3 separate regions of the Homo sapiens genome follow, and all the other regions are linked to region 3. The links come from fine-mapping of genetic effects on gene expression. A gene starts in region 3. Each other region holds a variant in brackets. All regions are shown on one strand. Distances are between the middles of the regions. Region 1 has its middle 15 kb from the start of PTGR1. Region 2 overlaps PTGR1 (prostaglandin reductase 1). Region 3 holds the start of ZNF483 (zinc finger protein 483).

The links. PIP is the estimated chance that this variant, and not a neighbour inherited with it, causes the effect.
Region 1: its variant is fine-mapped to the expression of ZNF483 in skeletal muscle (GTEx, PIP 0.92).
Region 2: its variant is fine-mapped to the expression of ZNF483 in fibroblasts (GTEx, PIP above 0.99). The same link has a PIP of 0.9 or more in monocytes.

The regions. Positions count from the first base shown.
Region 1 is chr9:111,613,081-111,615,928 of GRCh38, forward strand. It overlaps the pseudogene LRRC37A5P. Among named protein-coding and RNA genes, the nearest start is that of PTGR1, 15 kb to the left of the region's middle. The variant A/G (reference allele first, on the strand shown) is at 1,393.
Region 2 is chr9:111,566,839-111,569,338 of GRCh38, forward strand. All of the region lies in intron 9 of PTGR1 (prostaglandin reductase 1), which reads right to left. It also overlaps a transcript of ZNF483 not described here. Among named protein-coding and RNA genes, the nearest start is that of PTGR1, 32 kb to the right of the region's middle. The variant T/C (reference allele first, on the strand shown) is at 1,487.
Region 3 is chr9:111,523,548-111,526,395 of GRCh38, forward strand. It overlaps ZNF483 (zinc finger protein 483), which reads left to right and starts at 1,632. Exons shown (of 6, transcript NM_133464.5): 1 at 1,632-1,715. RefSeq lists a silencer at 1,535-1,884 and enhancers at 1,985-2,184, 2,296-2,795.

The DNA of each region.
Region 1 (2,848 bases), 90 kb after region 3:
CTACCTGGTTCAAGCCACCATCATCTCCTAAAATAACCTGATACTGGTCCCTTTGCCTATCCCCTTGCCTCCTTTCAGTCTTTTCAGCATCTAGCAGCTAGAAGGAGCTTTTAAAATGCAAACTGGGCATCAGTACTGGCAGATACTAAAACTTCCAGGAAGGACATGAACTGCTTTGCCTAAGAGAGAGAGAGAAAAAAAATTTGGAACTCCCCAATTTAGAATGAAAAATTAAGAAAATGGAACTCCCCATTTTAGAAGGAAAAATTAAGAAAAGAGTAGAGAGAATGGCTCTGGGTTACATAATGGATTCCTTAATCACTGGCTAAGAAATAAAAAAGGAACCTCTGAATATTGGAATGAATTAATTTTCTTGTGGAAATTGGTGAAGGGGCTAAATATCCTAATGATCTTGGAACAAAATAGAGCTCACATTTAAAAATAGCTAGCAGGACGCAGGAGGAGGCAAGCCCAGGGAGCTCACAGGCATTGTGGGAGAACTTTGGACTATCATGGAACATAGAACTTGGATTTGTTCCAATTTAATCAGACCTCGGAAGGGCAGAGGAGCCACCCACAGATGGCTTTGGGTTATGTTTGGGTTTTACTTGCCAGCTTGGGGGCATTGTTTAGATATCAGCTGTTGGTCATGCTGAACTGTGAAACAGGCGTCATTCCTTATTTGAGGTCTTATTACCTTGGTTTGTGAATTATGTGGGAAGGGTAAGGGTGAGTAGGACCTGCTGATTTGGATTACTTACCTGGATTTATAACCAGATGCATCCATCTGGTGGCGCTTAGGAGGAACTTTTTAGCAACTCTCAGTGGTGTCCTAATTTTTTCATTCAAAAGAATCTGAAAACAAGCCTGGGCAATATAATGAGACCCCATCTCTACTAAACTTAAAAAAAAAATGAGTGGGGCATGGTGGTGCATGCCTGTAGTCATAGATACTCAGGAGGCTGAAGCAGAAGGATTGCTTGAACCCAGGAGTTGGAGGCTGCAGAAAGCTATGATCACACCACTGTACCTCAGCCCAGGTGACAGAGTAAGACTCTGTCTCCAAAATAATAATAATTTTATATATATGTATATATATATATATATATTTTTTTTTTTGAGACAGGGCCTCACTCTGTCGCCTAGGCTGGTGTACAGTGGCATGATCTCAGCTCACTGCAACCTCTGCCTCCCAGGTTCAAATAATTCTCCAGCCTCAGCCTCCTGAGTAGCTGGGACCACAGGTGCGCACCACCAAGCTCAGCTAATTTTTGTATTTTTAGTAGAGATGTGGTCTTGCCATGTTGCCCAGGCTGGTCTTGAACTCCTGAGCTCAAAGTGATCCACCTGCCTCTGCCTTCCAAAGGGCTGGGATTACAGGTGTGAGCCACT[A/G]CACCCAGCCTAACAATAATAATTGTGTTTTTTTGTTTTTTGTTTTTTGAGATGGAGTCTTACTCTGCTGCCCAGGCTGGAGTACAGTGGCGCGATCTTGGCTCACCACAAGCTCCACCTACCGGATTCATGCCATTCTCCTGCCTCAGCCTCTCGAGTAGCTGGGACTACAGGTGCCCACCACCTTGCCCGGCTAATTTTTTTGTATTTTTGGTAGAGACGGGGTTTCACCGTATTAGCCAGGATGGTCTCGATCTCCCGACCTCATGATCCACCTGCCTCGGCCTCCCAAAGTGCTGGGATTACAGGCATGAGACACCGCACCCGGCCAATAATTTTTAAATATTTATATGAGAGGCAGAGAAATTTTGTAGGAAAGGAATGCTTTGTATGGAAGAGAGTTAAGATGCACAAAGACAGTAAGTGGTTCAAGATCAAGGGGAAAAGTGAGTGCTCAGCTCAGTGTTGGTTACTTGTATCTTACTTCAGCCCAGACTCTTGGGCTCATGCCCAAGTTCCAGCTCAGGGGGACACCAACAAAGAAAAAAGTAAGAACTTAAACAAGTGGCTTCATTAAACTCTCTGTGACATACTGAGTAGCTTTGTTACATAGATGGGAGATGGCACCAGTGACTTCGACCCTATCGGAGACATTGGGATTCGTCAATCTAATTACTCATGTGGAGGGTGCCCAAGGATACCTTATGTTTGGAGAGTCACTGGAAGGGCTCACGGGACCCAGACTATAGTTGTATTCATGGCTAAGGTTTATTACGGCAATGTAATGAGGAGGGAGAAAGACTCAGGTGGAGCCTGGGGAAATCCATGGGCAGGCATCCTACTGCCCCCTCCCTCCACGAGGAATTGCACAGTGCACTCTTCCTTCAGCAATGAAAATATATTTCCCCAGCAGTAAGCATTCAATGTTTCTGCTTATTAGAGGGAAACCCATTAGAGTCTCAACATCCAAAGTTTTACTAGGGTCTAGTCACATAAGGCACCCTCTGCCTAGCGTGTACCAAAATTCCAGACCCCCCAAAGGAAGGCAGGTGTTCAGCATAAACCACACTGTTTGTATAGTCTAGGCAGAATGGGCCACCCTTGTCAGTTAGGGAATGGTGGGGACACGCTTCAAATCCAAGTTCCCAGACACCAGCCCAAGGCCAACATCGCAATCAGGCTTGCTATGTTAACTCTTCTGTACATCAGTAAAACCTCTAGCAATAGTGAAGTCATTAAGAGAAATTTCGTCCTGGAAATTTTCCACCAGAATTTCTAATGTTGTATGGTGTATGCACAGAAGTTAGGATTAAATATGTTAAAGCTTGGCAGCTCTTCTAACTGGTCTATATTCAAGAAATATATTCAAGGCAGGGCAAAAGAAAAAGAATATAGCCAATTGCAAATGAGGAGGTAATTGGTTCTTTGACCATTTGTCCCTGAAGCACAGCTGCAG
Region 2 (2,500 bases), 43 kb after region 3:
GTATATATTATGTTAAAAGATGATTAATTGCTATGGATAAAAGTAGGATAGGAGCCTGGGCAACATGGTGAAAGCCCTTCTCTACGAAAAACACAAAAAAACTAGCCAGGTGTGGTGGCACATGACTGTTGTCCCAGCTACTCAGGAGGTTGAGGTGGGAGAATCCCCTGAGCCTGGGTCAAGGCTGTGGTGAGCCATGATCACGGCACTGCACTCCAGCCTGGGTGTCTGAGACCCTGTCTCAAAAAAAAAAAACAAAAAAAGTCGGGGGGCGTGGGATATGGAGGATCAAGAATGAAGAGGGAATGCAACTTAAAATAGGGCCATTTAAAAACTTGCCTCACCTGGAAGGCACTTTTTGTTTTTTTGAGATGGAGTTGTACTCTGTCACTGTGCTGGAGTGCAGTGGCACGATCTTGACTCACTGCAACCTCCGCCTCCCAGGTTCAAGCGATTCTCCTGCCTCAGCCTCCCAAGTAGCTGGGACTATAGGTGCACGCCACCATGCCCAGCTAATTTTTGTATTTTTAGTAGAGACAGGGTTTCACCATGTTGGTCAGATGGTCTCGATCTCTTGACCTTGTGATCCACCTGCCTTGGCCTCCCAAAGTGCTGGGATTACAAGTGTGAACCACCGTGCCAGTCCAGACGGCACTTTTTAGCAAAGGCTTGCAGGACGTGAGAGAATTCAGCAAGCAGTTACAGAGGGGTGGAGGAGACTGGGCCAAGTAAATAAGAGGATGAATACTAAGAAATGAAATCAGAGAGATATCAGGGGTCAGATTTTGTGTAAGCTTACTGAATATTAGCACTTTGGTTTACTTTAAGTGAAATGCAGAGCTTTGCATGGTTTGGATCATAAGAACGGCAGGATTTGATTTGTGCCTTAACAGATCGCTATGGCCACCACATTGGGAATTGTCTATAGGGATGCAAAGATGGGAGGCCAGGTAGAGTCCACTACTGTTGCGGGAAGTCAGGGACCCCAAACGGAGGGACTGGCTGGAGCCATGGCAGAGGAACATAAATTGTGAAGATTTCATTTTAATATGGACATTTATCAGTTCCCAAATTAATACTTTTATAATTTCTTACGCCTGTCTTACTTTAATCTCTTAATCCTGTTATCTTTGTAAGCTGAGGATGTATGTCACCTCAGGACCACTGTGATAATTGTGTTAACTGTACAAATTGATTGTAAAACATGTATTTGAACAATATGAAATCAGTGCATCTTGAAAAAGAACAGAATAACAGCGATTTTCAGGGAACAAGGGAAGACAACCATAAGGTCTAACTGCCTGCGGGGTTGGGAAAAACACAGCCATATTTTTCTTGTTGCAGAGAGCCTATAAATGGATGTGCAAGTAGGGAAGATATTGCTAAATTCTTTTCCTAGCAAGGAATATTAATAATTAATATCCTGGGGAAGGAATGCATTCCTGGGGGAGGTCTATAAATGGCTGCTCTGGGAGTGTCTGTCTTA[T/C]GCATTTGAGATAAGCACTGAAATACGCCCTGATCTCCTGCAGTACCCTCAGGCTTATTAGGGTGGGGGAAAAACTCCGCCCTGGTAAATTTGTGGTCAGACTGGTTCTCTGCTTTCGAACCCTGTTTTCTGTTGTTGAAGATGTTTATCAAGACAATATGTGCACAGTGAACATAGACCCTTATCAGTAATTCTGATTTTGCCCTTGTCCTGTTTCCTCAGAAGCATGTGATCTTTGTTCTGCCTTTTGCCCTTTGAAGCATGTGATCTTTGTGACCTACTCCCTGTTCGTACACCCCCTCCCCTTTTAAAATCCTTAATAAAAACTTGCTGGTTTTGTGGCTCAGGTGGGTATCACGGTCCTACTGATATGTGGTGTCGCCCCCAGCAGCCCAGCTGTAAAATTCCTCTCTTTGTACTCTTTCTCTTTATTTCTCAGCCAGCCAACACTTATGAAAAATAGAAAGAACCTATGTTGAAATATTGGGGGCAGGTTCCCCCGATACACTACAAGCATCCAGGCTAGAAGGCATGGTGCCTGGACCAGGGTGGTAGCAGGGAGGTGGGAGAAGTGTTCAGATTCTGTATATATTTTGAAGATAGAACCACCAGAATCTCCTTAGAGATTAGACATGGGTACGACAGAAAGACATCAAAGATGACCAAGGCTTTTGGATTGAGAAACTAGAAGTATAGAATTGTTATAACTGAGATAGTAAAGTCTGAATATGGAGCATGTTGAGCAGGAAAGATCAAAATATATTTAGTTTTCAAGATGTTATGTCAGAGATGTGTATCAGGCATCCAGGTGGACATACTAGCCTAGAGTTAAGAGGAGAGCCAGGCTGGAGATAGAGATGGGAACTCCCAGCATACTGAGCCCAGACGAGCTAACTAAGGGATAGCTCAAGCGTAGATAGAGAAGAGCAAAGTCCCAGTGACCATGACCTGGGGCACTCTAATATTAATTTGGAGTAAAGAAAAGCTAGCAAGAGTCTGAGGAGGACCAATCAG
Region 3 (2,848 bases):
AAGGAGAATATGCCATGGGACTCGGGACTGAGAAAACTTTTGTCTTCATTCTCAGCCCTGTTTCTTTTTTTTCTCTTTTTTTTTTTTTGAGACGGAGTTTCACTCGTTACTCAGGCTAAAGCGCAATGGCCTGATCTCAGCTCTTCACAACCTCCACCTCCCGGATTCAAGTGATTCTCCTGCCTCAGCCTCCCGAGTAGCTGGGATTATAGGCATGTGCCACCACACCTGGCTAATTTTTTGTATTTTTAGTAGAGACAGGGTTTCTCCGCGTGGGTCAGGCTGGTCTCAAACTCCCGACCTCAGGTGATCCACCCGCCTCAGCCTCCCAAAGTGCTGGGATTACAAGCATGAGCCACCGCGCCCGGCCATTCTCAGCCCTGTCTCTTCAGCTTGACTTGCTGCCTGTGATAAGCCCACTCCTTTTGAGAGGAGTGGTTCATTTAGTTGAGCTTGCTCTGCCCTTTTGAAGTCTCAGGGCCTTGAATCACCTTGCTCCTTCAGTCTAGAATGAATCTAGTCTTTCTCTCCTAACTCCACCCCTTCAGGGATCATCCAGTTATTAGAACCCTCCAAACAATTTTTCTGGAGTTCTTTGGCCCTTTTTGCAATGCCCCCAATAATCCATGCAAATACTCATTCATAAGCTCAACAAATATCTATTGAGTGCCTGCCATGGGCCAAGTCCTGTTCCAGGACCTAAACACACAACCTAGAACAAATGAAATAAAAATACTTACTCTTCTGAAATTAGTATTCTACTGGAGAAGGCGGACAAGTAGTAAAAAAAAAAATTAACAAACCTATAGGGCATGTTAGAAGAGGAAACAAGAGTAAGGTGGGATTCCTATTTAAGTGGAATGGTGGGAGAGCTTCATTGAGAAGACCTGAAGGGATGAGAGAGCGGGCCGTATGGCCACTTAGGGAAGGAGCAGGTCAGCCGGAAGTACCTGGCAGGTTACAAGAAGAGGAAGGGGTCTATCAAGATTGGAGCAGGAAAGTGGGGAAGAGGTGCGGGAGGTTACAGGGGCTAGATTCCATCAGGCCTTGTAGGCCACTATAAAGACTTGGGTTTTAACTCTGAGTGAAATGGGAAACCATTGCAGGGTTTTAAGCAAAGGAGGGTCATAATTTGACGTTTTTAAAACGTCCGTCTGGCTGTGGAGAATAGCCAAGAGAAGTAAGGTATAATCAAGAAGCTATTGCAATAATCCAGGTGAGCCATGAGGGTGGACTGGACCATGGGGGCAGGTGTGGAAGTCATAAGATTAATATGTGTTTAACTCAAGTTGTGGCATTAATTATGGCTTGCATTAAATGCATCGGTAATATGCTTCTGCGGTGGATTTTTCCACCTTAGATTTCAGGGAATGGAAGTGATGGGAGCGGGTAGGGAAGGTCTGAGGTTACTAAACAGATGGAGCCTCCTGGATCTGCAAACCTCATACGATTCTAGGCCTCTGAGCCTCTGGCGCAGCAATAATTCTGCAGCCGAGCCCACTAGCCGCTTCCCAGTGACCATGCGCAACAGGCAGGTGGGAGCCTATGGAAAGCGCGGACTTTCGGAAAGCTGCACGAGCGCGTTCGGGGAGTCCGGTTCAGCGCCTCTGCGCAGGCGCAGTGGTTCCCGCAGGCTTGCGCGCGCACTCGCTGCGGGACAAGCTTCTGGAAGCTCTTTGCGGTGGCGTTGGTGCTGTTTGCGGATGCTGATGCAGGTACTGGTCGTCCCGGGCCCCGAGTTTCGGGGCCGTGGCCGGGTCGCCGGCTCCGAGGGCGCACTTGGGGCGGGATGGGGGCCGGGAGCAGCCTACCAACGGGCTGTGCGCTGCGCTGCTGCTGCTTCTGTGGGAGGTGCGCACTCCGCTGCGGGATGGGGCTGTTGGCTTCCCTCCATCCCTCCCTGCGCCACTTGGGCACTGTTGACATTTTGGGCGGGATAATGCCTTGTTTTGTTTGTGGTGTGGCGGTGAGGGGGAGGCTCTCCCGTTGTGGCAGGATGTTTAACAGCGTCACTGGTTCTGCCCGTTAGATAACAGTACCACCTCTCGTCCTAGTCGAGCTAACCAAAAATGTGTCCAGACATTGCCAGAGGACCGCTGGGGGGTGAAATCTCTCCTTTTTTCTTCCCTCTGGTTGAGATCCTCTGGCTGCGTCACATTTTCACCGGGCCTCCTATGTAAACTCCCTGTAGACGGAGCCGAGTGTCTTAGTCATCGCGGAGCCCCAGGTGCTCAGCACGGCGCCAGGTACGTGGTGGGCGCCTAATATTTGGCAGAGGAATAAATGACGTCATGCTGCTGTGTGCCGGGCGCTGTACTCGGAAGTGGGTTGTTATTGGTATGGTAGTTGCAATGCGAGGCTGTCACATCCTTCACTTGTCGCATTGTAGTCCCGCTCCGGCTGTATTGTCATTTCCTGGACCCTCTGTGAGCGTGAGGACCCTTTCAGGCCTGTCCACGCCTGGCCCCGCAGCTCATGGCCCCTGGTCTCGTTCCAGCTCATTGTAGTTGCTCCGTCACTTATAGAATGAATGAATGAATGCAACACAGGGCAGTCTGTGTGCAAAGGAGTGCTTTGGGATCAAGCAGAGCATCACACCAGAAGTGACAGTTGAAAGGAGTCAGGCTTTAAAGACGAATAAAAGTTTGGTAGGAGAAAGAAAGCAACATTCCGAGGAGAGGGAATAGCCTTGGTGCAAAGGCTAGGAGAGTATGTAGAGAGAGAGGAGATACTAATTTATGGCTGTAGTGTCAATCGGGTAGCTAGAGCTCAAGAGGTGAGGTCATCAGACAGTGTCTCTAGATCACAATGCCATGGTCCCTGCATGTGAACTTTATCGAGAGACAGT